2 separate regions of the Homo sapiens genome follow, and region 2 is linked to region 1. Evidence: fine-mapped expression QTL. A gene starts in region 1. The other region holds a variant in brackets. All regions are shown on one strand. Distances are from middle to middle. Region 1 holds the start of MLEC (malectin). Region 2 has its middle 23 kb from the start of ACADS.

The links. PIP is the estimated chance that this variant, and not a neighbour inherited with it, causes the effect.
Region 2: its variant is the best candidate, but not a certain one, in a credible set for the expression of MLEC in neutrophils (BLUEPRINT, PIP 0.90).

Annotation. Positions count from the first base shown.
Region 1 is chr12:120,678,117-120,690,666 of GRCh38, forward strand. It overlaps MLEC (malectin), which reads left to right and starts at 9,033. Exons shown (of 5, transcript NM_014730.4): 1 at 9,033-9,415. The coding sequence starts at 9,181. LOC105370029 (a long non-coding RNA gene) reads right to left here and starts at 9,033. Exons shown (of 3, transcript XR_945449.3): 1 at 8,738-9,033; 2 at 4,780-4,889. It also overlaps a transcript of CABP1 not described here. RefSeq lists enhancers at 2,119-2,228, 8,412-8,521, 8,612-8,741, 8,836-9,337 and silencers at 6,948-7,037, 8,152-8,251, 9,092-9,391.
Region 2 is chr12:120,742,052-120,754,601 of GRCh38, forward strand. No RefSeq gene overlaps it. Among named protein-coding and RNA genes, the nearest start is that of ACADS, 23 kb to the left of the region's middle. RefSeq lists a silencer at 5,654-5,869. The variant A/G (reference allele first, on the strand shown) is at 6,079.

The DNA of each region.
Region 1 (12,550 bases):
CCCACCTCAGAGTTTCAGGGCTGGCAGGACTGGCTCCCACCCCTGCCTTGTGTTTGCCTTTTGAACTTTTGTTGTGAGTTTATCTTTAAGGGGGAAAAATATCCCATAAACTTAAAAATAGGCAGGACTTAATTAATAGTACGCTTTGTTCTTCTGATCCTTATCTGGACAGGAAGACACAACCCTTTTCAGTTTTATGGGTCAAGGTGAAATTGCCTCTCGGGGCTCAAACACAGCTGCTGCACCTTCCCCTTTTGAACTCTGGTTCCCTTTGGTTTTTTCTCCCTTGGGGAGAAGGGTATTTCCCACTCCTTAGCCTCAGCACTTCATCAAGGTCTTTTCTATTTATCAGATTGCCAGCGGTACCTGTTATAATTATTTCTTCATACATAATTAATAGCTTCTGTGCACTGAGGACTTCTATGGGCCAGGCACGCTGTGAATGGCTCCTAACAGCCCCACATGGTAGGTCTTCTAATTATATCCATTGTACAAGTGAGACAACTGAGGCCCAGAGAGGAGAAACGACTTTCCAAGGGCCACACAGCTCTAAGAAGTGGAGCTAGGCTTTAAATCCAGGTCTCTATGCCCCAAACACCCACGACTATGATTTACTGATCACTTAGCTACGTGCTCAATGGTCCCACAATGCTAATTTTAAAAACCACATCCTGGACGGGCGTGGTGACACATGCCTGTAATCCCAGTACTTTGGGATGCTGAGGGGGGGGCAGATCACTTGAGGTCAGGGGTTCGAGACCAGCCTGGCCAACATGGTGAAACCTTGTCTCTACTAAAATACAAAAAGTAGCCAGGCGTGGTGGTGTATGCCTGTAGTCGCAGCTACTTGGGAGGCTGAGACAGGAGAATCACTTGAACTGAGGAGGCCAAGGTTGCAGTGAGATGAGATCACGCCACTGCACTCCAGCCTGGGTGACAGAGTGAGACACCATCTCCAAAAAAAAAAAAAAAAAAAACCAACTTTAATTTTTTGTTTATTTAAAATATGTTTTCTTATTTTTAACAGTCCTACAAGGTGGGCACAATTATTCTCTCCATCCCACAAATGAAGAAACTAAGGATCAAAGAGGTGAATTCATTTACCCAAAGTCACACAGTGACTAATGGCAGAGCTGTGATTTGCACCAAACTATGTTTGCTACATAGCCAGGCTCAAAGGAAAAGAAGTATATTAGATGCCAAAACATTGGATTCTGGCTGTTCATTGTGTGACTTTGGACAAATCCCTCAACTCTCTGAGCTTTAGCTTCTCATCTGCAAAAAAGGGAACATGACCTAGTTTTCCAACGTTTTGAGGTCATTAAGAGCATCGGATAAGTAGGAACCAATGATTATTGAGAAGCTGCTCTGTCAGGACCTGGGTTTATATGCCTTATATCAGTTTTGGATGAAATTTTGGTGAATTTTGGGCTGGGCGCAGTGGCTCATGCCTGTAATCTCAGCACTTTGAGAAGCCGAGGTGGGCGGATCACCTGAGGTCGGGAGTTCAAGACCAGTAAGACCAACATGGAGAAACCCCGTCTCTACTAAAAATACAAAATTACCTGGGCATGGTGGCGCATGCCTGTAATCCCAGCTACTAGGGACGCTGAGGCAGGAGAATCACTTGAACCCGGGAGGTGGAGGTTGCGGTGAGTTGAGATCGCGCCATTGCACTCCAGCCTGGGCAACAAGAGCGAAACTCTGTCTCAAAGCAAGAAAAAAAAAGAAAAAAGAAATTATGGCAAATTTTATCTTTAAAAAAGTCTCTTCTGGCCAGCATGGTAGCTCATGCCTGAAATCCCAATACTTGGGGAGACTGAGGTGGGCGGATCACTTGAGGTCTGGAGTTTGAGACCAGCCTGGCCAACATGGTGAAACCCCATCTCTACTAGAAGTACAAAAATTAGCCAGATGTGGTGGCACATACCTGTAATCCCAGCTACTCAAGGAGGCTGGGGCAGGAGAATTGCTTGAATCCGGGAGGCAGAGGCTGCAGTGAGCAGAAATCACACCACTGCACTCCAACCTGGGCAACAGAGTAAGACTCTGTATGGGAAAAAGAAAAATTCTCTTCCATGTCGTCTGCATTTTCTACAAAAAGTGTATCTTTCTTCCACAGAGAAAAATAACTGCTGCCCATTTAAGAACTACCTATTTAGTCCTTACATCAATGTGGTGTGCGTTTCAGGAGAAAGGAGACTCAGCAAGAAAGGAAGTGATGTGACTGGGAAGCCGCTGAGGAAGGAACTGAACCCAGCTCTGTCTGACCCCCAAATCTTGGTTCCTGTTACTCTAACGAGGGCAAGTCCTCCATCCTGAGAGAGTGCTGGAGGATTTGCAGAAATGTTTGCAGCAAACCAGCCCCAGCTGAAAGAGGTGGGAATGCAGCCGCCCCAAGTGTTTCTGGGCTCTCAGATGGGGATGACCTTCCACAGCAGGGAGGGGAAATGGGAGACTGGAGCCCAAATTCCTCATTGTCTACAGAGAAATGGCCTGGGTCCAGGGCCACCTGGGGACTGACACTCTTCTCAGCTTTCCCAGGGCTCAGACTCCATGCCTTCTGCATGGTCTATCCTGAGAGCAAACCTGGGGTTATCTGGGGACCCCTCTGGGTCAGTGCTTTTGGATATAATCCTGCCCTGGGTTCAGGCCCTCTAGCCTGACTCTGGCCTTTTTGTCTTCTGCCCCCAACCCTATCAAGGCTCATGCCTGTAATCCCAGCACTTTGGGAGGCCGAGGCAGGAGGAGAACCCAGGAGTTTGAGACCAGCCTGGGCAATATAGCAAAAGACCTCATCTCTACAAAAAAAAAGAAAAAAAAATTCAGTGGGGCATGGTGGCACATGCATCTAGTCCCAGTTACTAGGGAGACTAAGGTGGGAGGATCCCTTGAGCCCGGGAGGTAGAGGCTGCAGTGACCCAGGATTATGTCACTGTACTCCAGCCTGGGCAACAGAAGGAAACCCTGTCTCAAAAAAAAAAAAAAAAAAAAAAAAAAAAGGACCGGGCGCAGTGGCTCACGCCTGTAATCCCAGCACTTTGGGAGGCCAAAGTGGGTGGATCACCTGAGGGCAAGAGTTTGAGACCAGCCTGGCCAACATGGTGAAACCCTGTCTCTACTAAAAATTCCAAAATTAGCTGGATGTGGTAGCATGCCTGTAGTCCCAGCTACTCGGGATGCTGAGGCTGGAGAATTGCTTGAACCCAGGAGGGAGAGGTTGCAGTGAGCCGAGTTTGCGCCACTGCACTCCAGCCTGGGCAACAGAGACAGACTTTGCCTCAAAAAAAAAAAAAAGGCATAGATCTAGTAGCCTTCTATAGTACAAGATGGGGGTCCTACTCCTGATACCACCTCAGGTGCGCAATTTTTTTTTTTTTTGAGACGGGTTCTTGCTCTGTCACCCAGGCTGGAGTACAGTGGTGCAATCTCAGCTCACTGCAACCTCTGCCTCCCGAGTTCAAGCGCTTCTCCTGCCTCAGCCTCCCTAGTAGCTGAGACTACAGGCGCACACCACCACGCCTGGCTAATTTTTGTATTTTTAGTAGAGACGGGGTTTCTCCATGTTGGCCAGGCTGGTCTCAAACTCCTGACCTCAGGGTGATCCGTCTGCTTTGGCCTCCCAAAGTGCTGGGATTACAGGCATGAGCCACTGTGCCTGGCCTTTTACTTCCTTTTATTCCTGCTCTAAAACTTGTCTCTGTCTCTCTCTCTCTGCCTTTTGCCCCTTAGTTGAATTCTTCTGAGGAGTCAATATATATATATATATATTTTTGAGACAGAGTCTCACTCTGTCACCCAGGCTGGAGTGCAGTGGCATGATCTTGGCTCACTGCAACCTCCACCTCCTGGGTTCAAGCGATTCTCCTGCCTCAGCCTCCCAAGTAGCTGGGACTACAAACGCATGCTACCACGCCTGGCTAATTTTTATATTTTTGTAGAGGTGGGGTCTCGACATGTTGGCCAGGCTAGTCTTGAACTCCTGACCTCAGGTGATTCACCTGCCTTGGCCCCCCAAAGTGCTGGGATTACAGGCGTGAGCCACCACGCCCAGCCAAGAATTGAGGTGCTGTAGACTCGTACAGATTTGTGGCTACAAACAATTTTATCAAGAGTTCCTAAAAGCGTATATCTGGGACCAGGTGCAGTGGCTTATGCCTGTAATACCAGCACTCTGGGAGGCCGAGGTGTGAGGACTGCTTGAGCCCAGGAGTTCGAACCAGCTTGGGCAACATCGCAAAAGACCCCATCTCTACAAAAAAATAAAAAAATTAGTGGGGCATGGTGGCACATGCCTCTAGTTCCAGTTACTTGGGTGGCTGAGGTAGGAGTATCCCTTGAGCCTGGGAGATCGAGGCTGCAGTGACCCATGATTGTGCCACTGTACTCCAGACTGGGCAATGGAACGAGACCCTGTCTCATAAAAAAAAAAAAAAACCAAAAAAAAAACATAGATCTAGCAGCTTCTTACAGTACAAGGTGGGGGGTACAAGTTCAGAAGGCAAGAACTCAAGAGACTTTCTTTCTTTCTTTTTTTTTTTTTTTTTTGAGACGGAGTTTCGCTTTTGTTGCCCAGGCTGGAGTGCAATGGCACAATATCGGCTCACCACAACTTACGCCTCCCGGGTTCAAGCGATTCTCCTGCCTCACCTTCCTGAATAGCTGGGATTACAGGCATGCACCACCATGCCCGGCTAATTTTGTATTTTTAGTAGAGATGCGGTTTCTCCATGTTGGTCAGGCTGGTCTTGAACTCCCAACCTCAGGTGATCCACTCACCTCGGCCTTCCAAAGTGCTAGGATTACAGGCGTGAGCCACCGTGCCCGGCCGAGACTTTCATTTCAGAGTAGCAATCGGTTGAGTGCCTTGGCTTGTGCCAGGCATGAATCTGTCAAAAATAAAATCAGATCAAGTTAAAATTTCAGGAGTTGATTGTGCATACAAAGGAAGAGTCTGTGAATCGGGAGATTACAAGATTGGCAAGAAGTCTGAATTGACAGCAGTTGTAGCACAAGAGGAAGTATTTTGACCCTTTACATGATTGGCTGATATATATTTTTTCAAAGGCAAATAGAGCTGCTTAAGCTGGTTTGTCTATGGCTGATTGGTTTAATTCTGTGGAATCATGCTAATAAGGGAAGAAAACTTATTCTTGTGCTTTGTTTATGTTTAGAGTTAGCATTTTGGAAAATCAGGTGCTAAAATTTTGGTTATGTGGCTATGGTGGTTGGTCTCGGAGTATCTAAACAATTGTTTCAGCTCTTTATCAATTCTAATGACTTTATTATATGCATTACCACCTTCTCCTCCTCTTCTTCATGCGGTTTTATTACCTTCTTTAATCCTCACGTCTGCCCTCTGAAATAGAAACTATTCCAGGCCAGGTGCGGTTGTTCACACCTGTAATCCCAGCACTTTGGGAGGCCAAGGCAGGTGGATCACTTGAGGCCAGAAGTTCAAGACCAGGCTGGCCAACATGGAGAAACCCTGTCTCTACTAAAAATACAAAAATTAGCCAGGCATGGTGGTGCATGCCTATAATCCCAGCTATCTGGGAGGCTGAGACACGAGAATTGCTTGAACCCAGGAGGCAGAGGCTGAAGTGAGCCGAGATCATGCCACTGCACTCCAGCCTGGGCAAGAGTGAGACTCTGTCTCAAAAAATAAATAAGTAAAATAAAGTATTCCAGTCATGTGCTACATAACATTTCAGCCAATGACGAACCACATACACGATGATGGTCCCGTGAGATTATAATATTGGCTGGGTGCAGGGGCTTAGGCCTGTAATCCCAGGACTTTGGAAGGTCAAGGCGGGAGGACCGCTTGAGGCCACAAGTTAGAGGCCAGCCTGGACAACATAGTGAGAATCTGTCTCCACAATAAATAAATAAATAAATAAATAAATAAAATTTTGTGTGTGTGTGTGTGTGTGTGTGTGTGTGTATATATATATATATTTTTTTTTTGAGACTGGATCTCACTCTGTCACCCAGGCTAGAGTGCAGTGGTGCGATCTCGGCTCACTGTAACCTCTGCCTCCCGGGTTCAAGCGAGTCTCCTGCCTCGGCCTTCCGAATAGCTGGGATTACAGGTGCGCCCCACCATGCCCAGCTAATTTTTGTATTTTTAGTAGAGACAGGGTTTTTCCATGTTGGTCAGGCTGGTCTCGAACTCCTGGCCTCAAGTGATCCACCCACCTCAGCCTCCCAAAGTGCTGGAATTACAGGCATGGGCCACTAGGCTGGCCAATACTGTGTTTATACTGTATCTGTGTTTAGATACGCAAATACTTACCATTGTGTTCAACTGTCTACAGTATTCAGTAAGGTAACATGCTGTAGAGGTTTGTAGTGTAGGAGCTATCAGCTATACCATATAGCCTAGGTGTATAGCAGGCTATCCCCATCTAGGTTTGTGTAAGTACACTCTGTGATCTCTGCACAATGACAAAATCGCTTAATGATGCATTTTTCAGAACGCATCCCTGTCATTAAGTGACTCATGACTGTATCTCTATTTCACAACTGAGGAAACTGAAACTCAGCGAAGTACATCACTTGCCCAAGGCCACACAGTGGGTAAATGGGACTAGGCATGGGATGCAGGCAGCCTGTCTTAGATCCCACGCTCGGATCCCATACCCTGCCTCCAGGGTCTCAGACTTTACGTTTTACTGAAAAGACAGCCTAATTCATGAGCAGCTGGATCTCAGAAAGGGAGCCAAGCTCCTTGGTACACAGATGGCCCAACCACGAATGGTATCTGAAGGGCTCAATAACAGGAGCCAGCCGGGTATCTTCTTCACCCTCTGGGGTGACCAAAGACACGAAGGACTGAGAGAAAGCCTTTAGAGGCCTCCCCCAAAATTTAATCCGTTTTTGTGATTGTTTCTCCTGGACTAGACTGCCTTGAGGATAAAATAAACATGAGCGCCTGGTGGCAGTGCAATACCTGAGTGGTACGTGGGCTCTGCAGGCCAACTGCCTGGAGGGAGGAAGCCCCATCACCACTACTTGTGTTTCTGTTCCCCATTTGCACCACACCCCTCCTTTGAGGGTAACTGAAGCCTCTGAGTTGTCAAGATCCTTAAAAGATGACAGTTTGAGAGAGAGAATAGTAGAATTAGAAACCCCAAGAGGCCAGGTGTGGTGGCTCACACCTGTAATCCCAGCACTTTGGGAGGCCGCGGACCCCGAGGTCAGGAGATCGAGATCATCCTGGCCAACATGGTGAAACTCGGTCTCTAATAAAAATAAAAAAAACTAGTTGGGTGTGGTGGCGCGCGCCTGTAGTCCCAGCTACTCAGGAGGCTGAGGCAGCAGAATCGCCTAAACCCGGGAGGTGGAGGTTGCCATGAGCCGAGATTGCACCACTGCACTCCAGCCTGGCGACAGAGCAAGACTCTGTCTCCAAAAAAGACAGAAAAAAAAAAAAAAAGAAACACCTTGGACAGGAAACATGTCTATGGGAGGAAGTAAGGCCAGATGCTTGCAAAATAGGGGGGAAAGTGAGACCGGGAGGGAACACTTCCAAAAGTTACCCCCATGGGGTCTGAATTTGGGGCCTGGGAAGGAATTTGGGTGCATTTAGATCCACCACTGATAGTCTCTATTTTGGCACCCTGTTTTGTTCCCGTATAGCACTTACCACTGTTCTAACTAAACAATTAATTTCATTATGGGTTGTGCAAAGTCTATGATTCTCATGCGGGACCCCAGGTGTGTTTTTTGTTCATGTAGCACAAAGCTCATTGCCTAAGTAGTAGGTAGGATTGGTAGATAAAATACAAGAAGTCCAGTTGTTTAAATTTTAATAAACAATGCATTTTTTTTTTTAGTATAAGTGGGTCCCATTTGCTTATCTGAAATTCAAATATAACTGGGCTTCTCCTATTTTATCTGCCAAATCTGACAACCCTGGTAGCAGGGACTTGATACATTTTTTTCCTTTTAGGGAGAATTTCTAAATCGACCAGTATTTATGGAAAATGCATAAGCGTTTTTTTGTTTTTTTTGTTTTTGCCTTGACTCTGCCCTACACTTGCGGTGCGACCCTTTGGCAAAATTCAGTCCCTTTCTATGCCTCAGTTTCCCCATCGGAAAAATGGGAGTTTGAACAGCGACCGAAGCGCAGGGATCGCCAGTGTGGGAGAGCGCCAGGTGAACTGTGAAGGAGCAGGGAGGGAGTTCGGGCCGTGCCCGTGCGGGACAACCCCGGTATCCACTCTGGGCACCGCCGGCGGCGACTCCCGCCAGCGCCTAGGGTGCCTCGGTCCCGCCCCTACGCAGCGGAGGCCGGCCAGAGGCCGTCGCCATGGAGACGCGAGCAGCCTGGCACCCACTCGCTCTCAAAGCCACGCGTTTCCGCTGCGTTGGAGCCTTCTCATTGGACGGCCGTCTGGACGCTACCACCCGCCCCGAGCCCGCTAAGGGGAGGGGGCGGGGCCTTATTCTCATGGGATTCGTTCCCTGGAGACCTGTGTCCGCGGCCTCTCTGGGAAAGCATGGGTCCTCTCCCTCACGCGGGGAAAAGGACTGCGTCTCTTAGGTCTGGAGAGTGTCCATTGCTTCTCCTACTAGAATTTATGCTCATGCTGCTCCCTGAGAAAAGAAGAGGGGGCGGGAAAGTCGGCCACGCCCCCTCCAGAGCCTATTTGGTCTCAGGAGCTAGAGCACCGGAAGTGCTGGCGACATGTCAGTGCGCCCTACCCTAAACCTTCCCCCCCCAGGCCACCTTTCCCATTCAGCTGTGGGATTCCGGGGCCGCCTGGGCGCTGCACCCGCCACTTCCGCATCGAACCGCCGCTTCAACCGAACTCACTCCCTCTGCGCGCGCTCCATCTGGTGCCCGACTGCTGGGCCGGCGCCTGGGAGAAGCCACGCCCTTTCCCGCGCCTGACAGCCAATGAGCGGGCGCCTCCCGGCGGGGTGGTGGGTAATTAATGAGGGCCGGGCGCTGATTGGCTGCAGCGTCGTGGCCGGGGGCAGGGCGGCGGGGTAGGTTGTTCCTGAGGTGGGAGGCGGTACCCGTGGCTGAGAAGAAGGAGGCCTGAGAGCGACATGTCCCCGGCGGCTCAGGCGGAGCGGCCCGTGGCGCTGTTTTTCTGAGTCCGGGGTGGCCTGGCAGCCGGCCGAGGACGAGGGTCGGCGGGGGCTGCCCCCGTGGTGGTGGCCGCCATGCTGGGAGCCTGGGCGGTTGAGGGAACCGCTGTGGCGCTCCTGCGACTGCTGCTGCTGCTGCTGCCGCCGGCGATCCGGGGACCCGGGCTCGGCGTGGCCGGCGTGGCCGGCGCGGCGGGGGCCGGGCTGCCCGAGAGCGTCATTTGGGCGGTCAACGCGGGTGGAGAGGCGCATGTGGACGTGCACGGGATCCACTTCCGCAAGGACCCTTTGGAAGGCCGGGTGGGCCGAGGTGAGAGTCCCCCTGCCGAGCCGCGGGATCCAGGGCCTGCTGTGCTGGGCGCAGCCGGCCGGGGGCTGCGGGCCCCGAGCCCCTTTCGACCCTGGGGCCGCGTCTCTGGAGCGAAGTTTCTCTCTGCAGCTTCTTCGGGGGCCCGCTCTGAGCTCAGGGCCTGGCACTGGCTCCAAGGTACCTAGAGTCATACAGGCAGAGAGTTGGCCAGAAGTTAGTTATATTTGGATTTCTCATCCTGCATTTTCTCAACCCCTCACTCCCATCCAAGCTGGGAGAGAAATGACGAAGGCGGCCTTTTGCTACCTCCAGGCCTCGCGGGTTGTAGGTCATGGGTGCCCCTGCTTCTCCTGTCGAGACAGTTCTTGGGAGATTCTCGTCGACCCAGGAATCGGCCGCTTTCCTTGCCCCTTCTGCAGGAGCGGGGCTTGATTCTTAGCCAGAATAGGAAGGAATCTTCGAAGAGAATGGGCCAGGAAAGTTTGATTGTAGCCTCCTCCCCCGCCCTCTTTTCGAGCGAAGAATATGTGTGCTTAAAAGTAGAATCGGCAGGCCGCCCCCAGAGGGTGGTTCTATCGAAGCCATCCTGCACGTGAGGCTGGTGGCTGTGTGTGAACTGGGTCAACCAGTGTAAGAATCCGAATGGTCTATCAGAGAATGCTTACAACCTCCCCTAGGTGATCCTGAGAGTTCTAATTCCAGCTTAGGGGGAAAATGATTGTGACTTAACTTGCTGGGCAACAGTGGTTTTTAACGGAGCTGCTCCCTTCCCAAAGTTAGTGTGTGTCAGAATTGCCAGGGCAGCTGGTTAAAAATGCAGATTCCTAGTCCCCACTCGAAATTGATTATAGTAGATTGAGCTTTTTTGCTGGGATCCAGGTTTCTGCACCAGGGGCTTGTGATGTAGGTTGCCCCGAGACCACCGTTTTGGAAGATCAGCTTTATAATCTTTGTTTCTTCTGTTGGAGGGATTGGAAAACAGGTTTCAGAAGGAAGTTCTTTGCTAGGAGATTGATACTGTATGCTGGGTTCAGAGGCTACCAAATTGGCAGTATGCCACCTCCAGACAACCAGGAGACAGACTCACTCTTCACTTTCTCTCATTCTTTTTCTGCGATGCCCAGATTTGGCTCTTGCTTTTACTAAAATAGTTAGTTCTTCCCAAGTCGATTGCAGTGTCCTGGAGTTTGTTATATTAAGGAGTTTATTGCCTTTCACACATGTGAGGGTCTTGGGACACAGGGCTGTTTTGTGAAGTTCTATGTTTGTCTTGGAGTTTGTTGAGCCCTGGCATGTAGATCACAGTAGCCTGGGTTCAGCTGACTCAGGGCTCCAGTCTTTAGCAGCGGTAACAGCAGCCAAAGCCAGACTTTATAGCAGGAGGTCATTACTATCTCTATCCTGGACCCTTCCTCTTTCTTCACGAGTGTGGGCAGGGAGGAAAGAGCCCTTGAGGAAACTAGACAGTTTGTGGACTTTGCCTCTTGAGATAGCGGTGGTGAGGGTGCTGAGCGGATGGTTTCTTTCACTTAGCAGATACCAGGCCTTACATTGGTTACATCGTCCTATTCAGTCTGTTGTGCAGAGAATAAAGCCGAGTAAGACCACACAGGTTTAGTTCCCAGATACTGCCCTTATTCAGAAATTCTGGTTTTAATTTGCTGATGCAGGTGGTGTGTGTGTGTGTGTGTGTGTGTGTGTGTTTCTTTGGCTTGGTCAGCAGTCAGCCAAGATCTGTGTCCTTGGGTTATTGGCTCATGGTTGCAGTTCCTTGGAAGGAGTTTATTGTAGCAGGTAAAATTACATGAGACCTACCAAAGCTTGTGTGTACTGGAGTCCTATTTCGGACACTGGCCCTTGGGGCATTGTATAAATGAAGGTTCCCTGCTAAGGTTCCCCTCTCCATTCTACCAATCTGGGTAAGAATTGGAGCAGTATTAAGGCATGGATGGGGAGTGGGAGGTGGCGCTTGTCAGCTGCAGTTTGGACCAGCTTGTTGCAACATTGCGCTTACCAGGTTCCTGAGAAAGGCATTTTGCTGGCTTTAGGTCGGGCTGAGATGCGCATAAGCTTGCACTCTCAGGAGGCAGCTCTCTACTAAGGAGTCAGTCCTACCAAGGGAAGTCCAGCTGTTCACACTGCCTTTCTTCTGGGCCTGTTTGGATAAGGGTGTGCCAGGTATTTGAAGACCCTTGCCTCGTGCAGCTATTTACACTGATTGCAGTAGGAACTGTATGCCTTATTTCTTTTCCCGCCTGCCTGTGATATTGTTTCCAGCATGCTGAGAAAAGTTGATTTTATGTTGAATGAATTCAGGTATTTGTTACCAAGTTAGTCCAGATAAGGGTTTGGCCTTCTTTTGAACTTGCTGTTTCTGTGTAGTTTCTTTGTAGTTCAACATTCTTGTAATTGTGAGTGGCCCAGGGCACCTAGTGGTTTATGCTTTCAAAAGCAGTTCAGAATATTTATTGAATTTCATTTCTGCCTTGAGGATAGCTAGTGCTTACAGCCTGGGAAAGGCTTTTTCAGCCTGTGTGCTTCCACAGATGGGAGCACCACTACAGAAAGTGGTTTAGAAGCGTTCACCTTGGGGTTTTGGTATGAGGCACATTCCAGGGTTTTTATTTATTTATTGAAAATTTTTAATTTTTTTTTTATTGTAGACACAGGGGTCTCACTATGTTGCCCAGGCTGGTCTTGAACTTCTGTCCTCAAGTGATCTTCCCACCTTGGCCTCCCAAACTGCTGGGATTACAGGCATGAACCATCACGCCTGACCATGTTCCAGATTTGTAACTTGGTCATTTTGAGTTCCTCTTCACTCTGACTAGGAAAAGACCTGGTTATTTGACCTGAGGGCACAGAATTTTGCTTGAGTTTAGGGAAGGCTATTTCCTCTTCAGAGAAAGATACCTGCTAAAGTCGCAGGTCCTCGAGAAACTTGCTTTACGTCTCTGAGCCTTGTTTTCCTTTTCAAAAAATCTCTCATGCTTTAGAAATTTCTGATAAGACTGTAAACTCTCCTGTCCAGAGTAGCTTGAAGTGTCTCTGTCACTTTTTTTTTCCTTGATGACCTTTTACATGGAATTAAAAATAGGGCAGAACATAGCTCCAGAGGGGAAAAAAGTTGGTTGG
Region 2 (12,550 bases), 64 kb after region 1:
CGGGGTCTGTCCTTCGGTGAGGGAGAGTCGGCACAAACCCTTGGCTTTGACGGGGTGCTGCCCGTTAGTGGAAGCTCCTCCTAACTTAGAACTGAATGTGGACTCTGCCCCCGGGCCACTGGAGCCCGAACTGTCCTAGAGCCCATGCCCCTCTGGATACAGTTTCCTCAGTGTAGATTTCCTAAGGACAAGGACGTTCACTTACAGAACAACAGGACCGTTTCCCACCCTGGTCAACTTTCACATCTGCACACTCCACTCGGATTGTGCCAGCTGGCACGGTGTCTGCGAAGTCAGCTCTTCTCAAGGTCCAGGGGCCTGCATTGCATGTAGCTGAGAGGCCACCTGTTTCCTTCCCTCTAGCCCTCTGGGACAAGTTCTCCATGCTTTGGTTCTTTTTTTTTTTTTTTTTGGAGATGGAGTCTCGCTCTGTTGCCAGGCTGGAGTACAGTGGCGCAATCTCGGCTCACCGCAGCCTCCACATCCCGGTTTCAAGCGATAAAGCGATTCTCCTGCCTCAGCCTCCCGAGTAGCTGGGGTTACAGGCATGCGCCACCACGCCTGGCTAATTTTTGTATTTTTAGTAGAGACGGGCTTTCATCATGTTGGCCAGGCTGGTCTTGAACTCCTGACCTCAGGTGATCCGCCCGCCTCGGCCTCCCAAAGTTCTGGGATTACAGGCGTGGGCCACCATGCCTGGCCTGAATTCATACATTTCTAAGTGTGGCTTTTGCTTCATCTCATACATTTTAGTGTCATATTTTCCTTATTACTCAGTTTTCTGAGGCCCATTGTGCTTTCTATTTTGATTTATCAGTTATTTAGGAGAGTATTATTATGTTTTGAGACAGGGTCTCTTCTCGCTTGGGCTGGAGTGTAGTGGTATAATCGCAGCTCACCACAGCCTTGACCTCCCAGGCTCAGGTGGGCCTCTTACCTCAGCCTCCCAAGTGGATGGGACTACAGGCGCCACCACACCTGGCTATTTTTTGTATTTTTAGTAGAGATGGGGTTTCACCATCTCTACTAAACATGTGACCAGCCCAGGCTAGTCTCAAACTCTTGGGCTCAAGTGATCTGCCCGCCTTGGCCTCCCAGAGTTCTGGGATTACAGGTGTGAGTCACCATGCCTGGCCAAAGAGTATTATTTTATTAATATGGGGTTTTCTGAGGTATTTTTTGTTAATGATTTTTAAAAACTGTGACGGAGTTTACAGTTTTAACCATTTTCAAGTGTACACTCAGTGGCATTAGGACATTCATCATGTTATGCAACCATTGCCACCATCTAGTTCCAGAACATTCTCATCACCCCAGCAGGAAACTCCATACCTACTGTTGCTGGTTTTTACCTTAATTGCATTGTGGTCTCAGCACATTTTCTGCACTATTTGAATTTTTTGAAATCTGTTGAGATGTGCTTCACGGCACTAAGTTACTTTTTATGAAGATTGAATATTAGCAATTTGGTTTTTCCATGTTGATACGTGAAGTTCTAGTTCATTTATGTGGATGGCTGCATGGTGTCCCATGGGATAAACTATATTGAGGTAGTTTCCTGCTTTTTACTCTATAAACCATGATGCAGTGGACATTCTGGCATGTGTGTTTTTCTAATGTGAGAACTTGTGAGCATTTAAATCGAAGTGGGCTTGCTGGGCCTTAAGGCTGTTTATTTCTTCAGCTTCGCCAGATATTGCCAAATGGCCCTCCAGAGGTTGGATCAGTGGTCGGATCACCCTCTATGCATATGCGAGGGTTGATGACGCGCATTCTCCCCGTTCCTTGGCACCCACAGATTTTACAAACGTTCTTCAATATGGTTGTGATTTTAACTTGCATCTCCCTGGTTTCTTGAGAAACTGCACGTCTTTTCACGTGGTGATTGGTCATTCTGGTTTCTGCTGTGAATTGCTATTGTCTGTTTCTTCTTTGGGTTGTAATTGATTTGTAATTGTCCCACGTGTTTACTCTTGATACTAATCATTTGTCAGATATCTGGTTGCAAAAGGACTCATACAGTGTGTGGTTTTCCCTTTATTTATTATTTTTTTTTGAGACAGAGTCTCGCTCTGTAGCCCAGGCTGGAGTGCAGTGGTGTGATCTTGGCTCACTGCAAGCTCCACCTCCTGGGTTCACGCCATTCTCCTGCCTCAGCCTCCGGAGTAGCTGGGACTACAGGCACCCACCACCACACCCGGCTAATTTTTTGTATTTTTAGTAGAGACGGAGTTTCACCGTGTTAGCCAGGATGGTCTCGATCTCCTGAACTCATGATCGGCCCGCCTTGGCCTCCCAAAGTGTTGGGATTACAGGCGTAACGCACCGCACCCAGCCTTCCCTTTTAAAAAATGGGTTCAGCCAGGTGCGGTGGCTCACGCCTGTAATCCCAGCACTTTGGGAGGCGGAGGCGGGTGGATCACCTGAGGTCAGGAGTTCGAGAACAGCCTGGCCAACATGGCAAAACCCCATCTCTACTAAAAATACAAAATTAGCCAGGCATGGTGGTGTGCGCCTGTAATCCCAGCTACTCGGGAGACTGAGGCAGGAGAATCGCTTGAACCTGGGAGGTGGAGGTTGCAGTGAGTGGAGATTGTGCCACTGCACTCCAGCCTGGGCAACAGAGCAAGACTCATCTTAGGAAAAGAAAATTTTAAAAAATACAGTTTAGTAGAAGGAATACGTTCTAGTGTTCACACAATATGGTGATTATTGTTATCAGTATTTTTTGTATATTTCAAAACAACTAGAAGATTTAGTATGTTCTCAACACAAAGAAGCGATAGATGTTTGAGGTGATGGATACCCAGTTACCCTGATTTGATCATTAAACATTTTATGCATGGATCAAAATATCACACGTACCCCATAAATATGTACAATTATTGTGTATCAGGTTAAAAAAAAAAAAGGCTCTTATGTGTAGCAGAAGGGCAGACATGGTGCAGGCAGGCCAGAGACCTAACAGGAATTTGCAGAGCTCCAGAGCCTGAAGACTCAGCCCCGGCAGATTGCTTAGGCCAAGGGCAGGGGCGTGGGAAGGAAAACCTGGCATCCGGAAAACGGAGCCATCTGAACGGATGCCCCTGATGCTGCTCTCCAGCCCAAACTCTCCAGGGTGCAGAGGGTGGCTGCCTCTCCATAGGAAGGTGAGGGCTTCTGCTACTGGAAGAGTCTGCGGAAGCCGCTCCCAACAAGGCCACAGGTGCCCCTCTGCAGCGGCCCTCACCTCCTCTCCTGGCTGCCGGGCCCATGACTGCGGTCGAAGCCCAGTGTCACCCAGCTGGGGACAGGCTGGAGCTGATGAGAAAGCGACGCTACACTGGTATTGGTTTTCTACTCTAGCAACACATCACTACACGCTTAGTGGCTTGAAGAAATACCCATCTTAAAGGGCCAGGCACAGCAGCTCAGCCCTGTAATCTCAGCTCTTCGGGAGGCCGAGGTGGGAGGATGGCTTGAGCCCAGGAGTTCAAGAGCAGCCTGGGCAACACAGGGAGAGCCCATCTCTACAAAAAATAAAAAATAAATTAGCTGGACGCAGTGCCGCATATCTAGAGTCCTAGCTACACAGGAGGCCAAGGAGGGAAGATCACCTGAGGCCAGGGATGCAAGACCAGCCTAGGCAACATAGTGAGACCCTGTCTCTACAAAAAAAAAAAAATTAGCCAGGCTCAGTGATGCATGCCTGTACTCCCAGCTACTTGGGAGGTTAAATTAGGAGGATCACATGAACCCAGGAGTTCGAGGCTACAGCGAGCTGAGATTACACCACTGCACTCCAGCCTGGGCAGCAGAGCAAGGCCCTGTCAAAAAACCAAAAAAAAAAAAAAACCAAAAAAACAAACCCATCTCATAGTTTTCATGGTTCAGGAGTCTGGGCGTGGCTTAGCTGGATGCTCTGTCCAGGGTCTCACAAACTGAAAGCAAGGGACTGCAGTCTCATCTGAAACTCCGTTCCCTTCCACGCTCACGTGAGCATTAGCAACATAGCAAGGCCCCATCTTAAAAAAAAAAAGATAAACATATAAATACTAAAAGAGTCCGAGGAAGTGAGACGGGCGAGTCAGGGGACTCATGTTTTTGGTACGAGATTTTAATACAATTTGATTTTTGTGTATTTTATATTTAATACACAAAATGAAAACATGGCATACCAAAACCTATCATACTCAGCCGGGCGCGGTGGCTCACGCCTGTAATTCCAGCACTTTGAGAGGCTGAGGTGGGAGGATCACGAGGTCAAGAGATTGAGACCAGCCTGGCCAACATGGTGAAACCTCATCTCTACTAAAAATACAAAAATTAGCTGGGCATGGTGGCATGCACCTGTAGTCCCAGCTACTCAGGAGGCTGAGGCAGGAGAGTCGCTTGCACCAGGGAGGCAGAGGTTGCAGTGAGCCGAGATAGTGCCACTGTACTCCAGCCTGGGCGACAGAGCAAGACTCCGTCTCAAAAAACAAAACAAACAAAAAAAAAAACTATCATACTCATGCTGATGAAATTTAAAATCTACATAAATGATTTATCTTCCAGGAAAACAAATACACAGAATTGATTCTAGAGAAGGCAGAAAAAACAAACAAACACAAAAAACAGACCAGTAAGACTAGAACAAATTGAAAAGGAGTTAAACATTTGTCCCCACAAAAGGCATCTCCTAACAGAGTCAGTGGAAATGTAACTCAACTGGAATTGCCTCTCAGAGCAGGCGGAAGGGTAAATTGGTACAATTATTGAGGAGAAATGCTGTATTCCAACAATGAGCATACATACAACTATAAAAAAGAATGAACTACTGACCATAAATTGCTAACATGGCTGAATCTTACAAATGTAACATTAAGCAAAAAAGGTTAGGCTCAAAGCTGGGCACAGTGGCGTGCACCTATAACCCTGGCTACTTGGAGGCTGAGGTAGGAGGATTGCTTGAGGATGCTCCAGCAGTTGGAGACCAACCTGGGAAACATAAGGAGACCCCCATCTCAAAACAAGCAAACAAAGTTAAATTTAAAAAAAGGTAGGCCAGACATGGTGGCTCACGCCTGTAATCCCAGCACTTTGGGAGTCCGAGGCAGGCGGGTCATGAGGTTAGGAGATCAAGACCATCCTGGCTAACAGAGTGAAACCCTGTCTCTACTAAAAATAACAAAAATTAGCTGGGCGTGGTGGCGTATGTCTGTAATCCCAGCTACTCAGGAGGCTGAGTCAGGAGAATCGCTTGAACCCGGGAGGCGGAGGTTGCAGTGAGCCGAGATTGCACCACTGTACTCCAGCCTGGGGGACAGAGCGAGACTCTGTCTCAAAAAAGTTTATAGTCAAGACTTCATAATGTATTCACTGTATTACATGAATTTCAAATGCAAGCAAAACTAATCTGTGGTGACTGAAATTAGAACAGTGGTTACCTTGGGGGCCACTGACAAGAGGCACAAGAGAAGCTTGCTGGGTGCTGGAAAGGTTTTATATTCTGATCCGAGTGGTGGTGGTTCAGGTATAGTCATGTGGAAAGAGTCACGAAGGCTGTACACTTAAAATAGGTGGACATTAATGCTTCCAGCTCAGTATTTTTTTTTTTAATAAAAAAAAAAAAACACGGTATCTGGCCCAGATGGCTCTATTGAGAGTTCTAAAAGAGGCAAGAGGAAAGGCCAAGGGTTTCCACAGTCTGCGTTTCTGTTGTGAGCAGGCCTGGCTTACTCAGTCTTTGCTGCTCTCTGGGAGTGCCTGGAGCTATGGCACTGACCTGGGACAAGCTGAGAAGGAAACTCTTGGAAGGTGCATGTAGTTACTGATGAATGTTAATCTGTAGGCCTGGTGCACTGGGGCAGGATGAGCAGCCTGTCAGATGTCAGAATGTTTAACATCAAGATTTAGGATGTGCGGCCGGGCGCGGTGGCTCACGCCTGTAATCCCAGCACTTTCGGAGGCCGAGGCGGGCGGATCACAAGATCAGGAGATCGAGACCATCCTGGCTAACACGGTGAAACCCCCGTCTCTACTAAAAACAAAAACAAAAAATTAGGTGGGTGTGGTGGCGGGCGCCTGTAGTCCCAGCTACTCGGGGCCGGGGGTGGG[A/G]GGCTGAGGCAGGAGAATGGCGTGAACCCAGGAGGCGGAGCTTGCAGTGAGCCAAGATCGTGCCACTGCACTCCAGCCTGGGGGACAGAGACAGACTCTGTCTCAAAAAAAAAAAAAAAAAAAAAAAACTTAGGATGTGCGTCTGGCCTCTGTTTTGGAGTGCTGTGTTTTGGTTACCATGGCTGGTCATGTGGCAGGAAAGTGCCTATGTGACCATCTTCTTAGAACAACAGGTTTTGAGACCTGGGTGTTTCCCTGGGCAGAGACATCTCACATCTCTGTGGTTCACACCTGGAAAGAAACACACCGTGCAGCCTGCTCTCGGCCTCCCTGGACTTTGTCTATGTGTATCTTTCTCTCTGGTCCCGTGGTGTATCCTTCGCTTAGTCAACCTTAGCTGTGATATAACCTCATCAGGTCATGTGAATCCTTCTAGTTAATAACTGAAGTAGGAAGGGGTCCCGATTCATCCGCCATAGCCCCCAGCTCTGCCTCACTCAGGTCTGCTGTGCTCCCCTCTACATTTGCTCACAACCGCCTTCTCTCCCTAGAATTTTCTTCTGATCTTTAGTTCCCTGAATCAATATGCTTTCCTTTAATCTCTATAGCACTCAGGCTTTGGCTAAGGCAGGAAGCCAACAACCTATATGCTAGTTCACCACCTTGGGGCAAACCAGAAGTCACCCACTATTAAAAAAAATTGTTTATTGCTGACATATTTCGTTTTTATTTCTGTTTATCTGGTTATGTTGAAGAACTTCGTTAGTTCTTTCAATAGATTATCCACTCAGGCCGGGCATGGTGACTCACACCTGTAATCCCAGCACTTTGGGAGGCCCAGGTGGGTAGATTACCTGAGGTCAGGAGTTCGAGACCAGCCTGGCCAACATGGTGAAACCCTGACTCTACTAAAAATACAAAAATTATCCGGGCGTGGTGGTGCACGCCTGTAATCCCAGCTACTTGGGAGGCTGAGGCTGGAGAATCGCTTGAACCCGGAAGGCGGAGGCGGAGGGTGCAGTGGAATGGTATGGTGCCGCTGCACTCCAGCCTGGGCGACAGAGCAAGACTCTGTCTCAAAAAAAAAAAAAAAAAAGCCTTTTTTTACACTCCTCGATACCAAGGCTCTCTGGTGCTCACACTTAGCCGTGAACTGCTTGTTCACAGTTCTCAGTTTCTCACTTGCTGCAGATAGAGCATCAGGACGATTGAGCAGTGAGCAGCCACCTCGGCACTTTCCCTGGCATTGTCCCACCTCCACCCTGGATAGCCTTCAAATTCTGCATCATCACAGCTGCCACAGCATTCCCTCCTCCAGGACATTCCCAGGTCACCACTGATCAGATCTTTAGCAATGGAGCCACCACGCTGGGCTGGGATCTATTTATGCCACCTACTGACCAGAACACCAGAACACCTTGATGTGGGTCATTTTTCATTCATTTAGCTGGGCACGTGGTGGGTCTTTCCATCTAGAGATCCATGTTTTTTTCCTCCATGTTCTTTAATTCTTGGAACTATTACATTATTTCTTTGATAATTTTATTCACTTTTTTTTTTTTTTGAGACAGGGTCTTGCTCTGTTGTCCGCACTGGAGTGCAGTGGTACAATTATGGCTCACTGTAGCCTCAGGCTCCTGGGCCCAAGCAATCCTCCCACCTCAGCCTCCCGAGTAGCTGGGATTACAGGCATTTGCCACCAGACCTGGCTAATTTTTTTTTATTTTTAGTAGAAACAGAGTATTGCTATGTTGCCAGGCTGGTCGCAAACTCCTGGGCTCAAGTGATCCTCCCATCTTGGCCTCCCAAAGTGCTGGGATTATGGGTGTGAGCCACTGTACCCAGCTTGATTCACTCTTTTTTTTTGGTTTGCTTTCTAAATTCCTAGAAGTCTGATGTTGTACTTTCTTGGTCGAACCTCTAATTTTCTTTTCTCTCCTATTTTCCTACTTTGACACTCCTATGTTTGAGCAGATCATCGATTTTATTTTTCTATTCTTATTTGTTTGTTCAAAAATGTATATTGAGCACTTATTCTAGGTGCTGGAGATACAGCAGAGAAAAAGACAAAGCCCTTGTTTTTTGTTTTTTTTTCTTTTTTGAGATGAGGTCTTGCTCTGTCACCCAGGCTGGAGTGCAGTGGCATGATCATAGCTCACTGCAGCCTCAAAGTGCTGGACTCAAGTGATCCTCTGCCTCAGCCTCTCACATAGCTGGGACTACAGGTGCACACCACCACACTAAGCTAATTTTCTTTAATTTTATTTTTTTTTAAGATGGAGTTTTGCTCTTGTCCCCCAGGCTGGAGTGTAATGGCACAACATCGGCTCACTGCAACCTCTGCCTCCTGGGTTCAAGCGATTCTCCTGCCTTAGCCTCCCTAGTAGCTGGGATTACAGGCACCCGCTACCATGCCCAGCTAATTTTTTGTATTTTTAGTAGAGATGGAGTTTCACTATGTTGGCCAGGCTGGTCTCGAACCCCTGACCTCAGACAATCCACCTGCCTCAGCCTCCCAAAGTGCTGGGATTACAGGCGTGAGTCACTGCGCCTGGCCTTTTTAAAATTTTTAGTAGAGATGGAGGTCTCACTATGTTGCCCAGGATGATCTCAAACTCCTGAGCTCAAGTGATCCTCCTGTAACCCCAAAGTGCTGGGGTTATAGGGATAAGCCACTATGCCTGAACCCTTGTTGATTTTGGATTCCAGTTTTTTTTTTTTTTTCTTTAAGCAACAGGGTCTCACTCTATCATTCAGGCTGGATTGTAGTGACGTGATCACTGCTCACTGTAGCCTCCAATTCCTAGGCTCAAGAGATCCTCCTGCCTCAGCCTCTCTGTAGCTGAGACTACAGGTGGCGCCACCGTGACACACTTATTTATTTTGTAGAGACGGGGTCTTGCTATGTTGCCCAAGCTGGTCTCAAACTCCTAGCCTCAAGAGATCCTCCCTCCTTGGCCTCCCAGATACTGAGATGATAGGCATGGGCCACTGCGCCTGGCAGTTTCTTTTCTTAATTCTTCCCAGTCACACTGTGTGGTAGTGAGAGAAGGTGGTCAGTTGTTTTCACTTTTCTGAATATGAGGCCTTGTGAGAATCGAATACATGGTCCGTTTCCATCAAGAGTCCATGAGAACTGAAAAGGTTATGTTTTGTATGATGGTAGAGATTAATAAAATTGAACGAATGTTGATAATTTTATTCTGATTCATTCATTCATATTGCAGCAGCTACTATATCTAAGATACTGTGCAAACCATTGGGAGAAACAGTGGGTGAGCAGAAACAATTCCTTTTTTCACAGTCCTTGCAGGCAAGCTAGTGCTGGTGGTGCTAGTGGCAGACACTAATCACATCGCAGCCTCAATGGGATGCGTGCAACGCAGGAGAGGAGCAGAGTTCTAGGAGAGACTAAAATAGAGGAACCTGAGCTGGAATGCTGAGTCACAAAAGGCTTCCCTGACCAGGTGACAGCTGAACTGAGATCTGAGGGATGAGTTGGCGTGAATGAGACAAAGAGCCTAGAGATGGACAGCCCAGGCCTGGGAAATGGCTTGTGCAGATGCCCTGTGGTGGGAGAGAGCATGGTCTTCAAGGAATGGAAGAATGGCTGGAGGACGGAGCGGGAACACGGCGTGAGATGAGCTGGAGAGGCGGACAGCCATCTCGGGTACAGTCCTATGGGTCACATAGATTTCTGCCTTGTCCTGGAAGTGACAAGGAAGCCTTTGGCGCATTTGACTCAGAGAGATGGTGTACAAATGTTTTTGTTTGTTTGTTTTTACAGAGTCTTTCTCTGTCACCCAAGCTAGAATGCAGTGGCACAATCATAGCTCTCTGCAACCTCAAACTTCTGGCCTCCAGTGATCCTCCCATCTCAGCCTCCCAAAGCACTGGGATTACAGGCATGAGCCACCACACCTGGTCTGAAAATATTTGTTTTGAGGCCAGGTGCGGTGGCTCATGCCTGTAATCCCAGCACTTTTGGGAGGCCAAGGCCGGTGGGTCATCTGAGGTCAGGAGTTTGAGACCAGCCTGGCCAACGTGGTGAAACCCGGCCTCTACTAAAATACAAAAAATTAGCCAGGTGTGGTGGCGCATGCCTGTAGTCCCAGCTACTTGGGAGGTTGAGGCAGGAGAATCGCTTGAACCCGGAGGCGGAGGTTGCGGTGAGCCGAGATTGCACCACGGTGCTCCAGCCTGGGCGACAAGAGTGAAACTCTGTCTCAAAAAAAAAAAAAATTGTTTTGAAAAGATCCCCTCTGGCTGTGGTGTGCAGCGCAGTGAGGAGGTGTGGAAAGAGGAGGTTGGTCAGAGTGGAGAGTTAGGAGGCTCCTGTAATGATCCAAGAGGGAGATGATGGTATCTTGGATCTGGGTGGAGACAGGAGATGGAAAGAAATGGATGGATCCCTGGAATGGCAGGCAGGTTAAACAAACAAGAGTCAGTGATGCATTTCCTGGTCATGGGGATGGAGGGAGAAGGGCTCTGTCCTGTCCAGCTGGATGAATGGTGGTATCACTCCGGAAGAAAAGGGAGAACTTCATTAGTGGTGCTGGGGAGAACAGATGATCGATCTGTCTTAGGCACTATGAGCTTTTTCTCTCTATACACATTCTTTTTCTACTTGCATTGTCAGAGACTGAAAGAAATTGTGTTATTCTTCAATTACATTTTTATTTCTATCGATTTCTCGTGTTGCAGTTTTGCTTATGTAGTTTGATGGTAAGAGTTTACAGCAGTGTTACATTTTGAAGATTTTAATTTTTAATTTTTGAATAAAAATATTGGTATGTGTTCAAAATTGTAGGCAGCCTCTATGACTCCCAATTCCCTCTCCAAAGGTAACCCTGGTTTCTAGCTTAGGATGCATAAGAAAATATACAGTATAGGTTATGGTCCTCATCTTTATTCATTTCATTCCTGAATAATAATCTGTACACATACACATTTTGTTCAGTTAATGACAATTTTGGTTGTTTCTTCTTTTTGGTTATTAATACTGCTATGCACATGTATGTATAAGTTTTTGGTAGATACAGATTTTTAATTCTTGTAAACTGTAACTATGAATGAAACTGCTAGATCATATGGTAACTATGGTACCTTTGGTGGAACTGTGAAGCCATTTTCCAAAGCAGCTGCACCATTTTATAATCCCACCAGCAATGGTGGTTTTTTTTTTAATTTTTTTTTAAATTTCTATTTATTTTTTGAGATGAAGTCTCATTCTGTCACCCTGGAGTGTGGTGGCGCGATCTTGGCTCACTGCAACTTCCACCTCCCGGGTTCAAGTGAGTCTCGTGCCTCAGCCTCCCTAGTAGCTGGGATTACAGGTGCCCACCACCACTCCTGGCTAATGTTTGTATTTTTTAGTAGAGACGGGCTTTCGCTGTGTTGGCCAGGCTGCTCTCGAACCCCTGGCCTCAAGTGATCTGCCCACCTGGCCTCCCAAAGTGCTGGGATTACAGGTGTGAGCCACCCTGCCCGACCCCAACAATGTTATGAGGGCTCCATTTTCTGTACATCTTTGCTAACTCTTGTTATTGTCTTTAAAAAGTTATTGTCATCCTAGTGGGTGTGAAGTGATGTCTCACTGTGGTTTTGATTTGCATTTCTCTAATGGTGCTGAACATCCCTTTCATGTGCTTATTGGTCATTTGTGTGTGTGTGTGTGTGTGTGTGTGTGTGTGTGTGTGTGTGTGTGTGTATATTTTTTTTTTTTTTGAGATGGAATCTGGCTCTGTTGCCAGGCTGGAGTGCAGTGGCACGATCTTGGCTCACTGCAACCTCTGCCTCCCTGGTTCAAGTGATTCTCCTGCCTCAGCCTCCCGAGTAGCTGGGATTACAGGCACGCACCACCACGCCTAGCTAATTTTTGTATTTTCAGTGGAGACGGGGTTTCACCAGGTTGGCCAGGATGGTCTCGATCTCCTGACCTCGTGATCTGCCCACCTCAGCTTCCCAAAGTGCTGGGATTACAGATGTGAGCCACCGCGCCCAGCCCATTTGTATATATTTTTTGGAGAAATTTCTATTTGTATCTTTTGCCCATTTAAATAACTGGATTGTCTTTTTTATTGTTGAGTTGTAAGAATTCTTTTTTTTTTTTTTTTGGGACGGAGTCTCGCTCTATCGCCCAGGCTGGAGTGCAGTGGCACGATCTTAGCTCACTGCAAGCTCCGCCTCCCGGGTTCACGCCATTCTCCTGCCTCAGCCTCCCGAGTAGCTGGGACTACAGGCGCCCGCCACCGCTCCCGGCTAATTTTTTGTATTTTTAGTAGAGACGGGGTTTCACGTGTTAGCCAGGATGGTCTCGATCTCCTGACCTTGTGATCCGCCCGTCTCGGCCTCCCAAAGTGCTGGGATTACAGGCGTAAGCCACTGCGCCCGGCCCAAGAATTCTTTATATATTTGGAATACTAAATCCTTATCAGATATATGATTTACAAATACTTCCTCCCAATTTTTG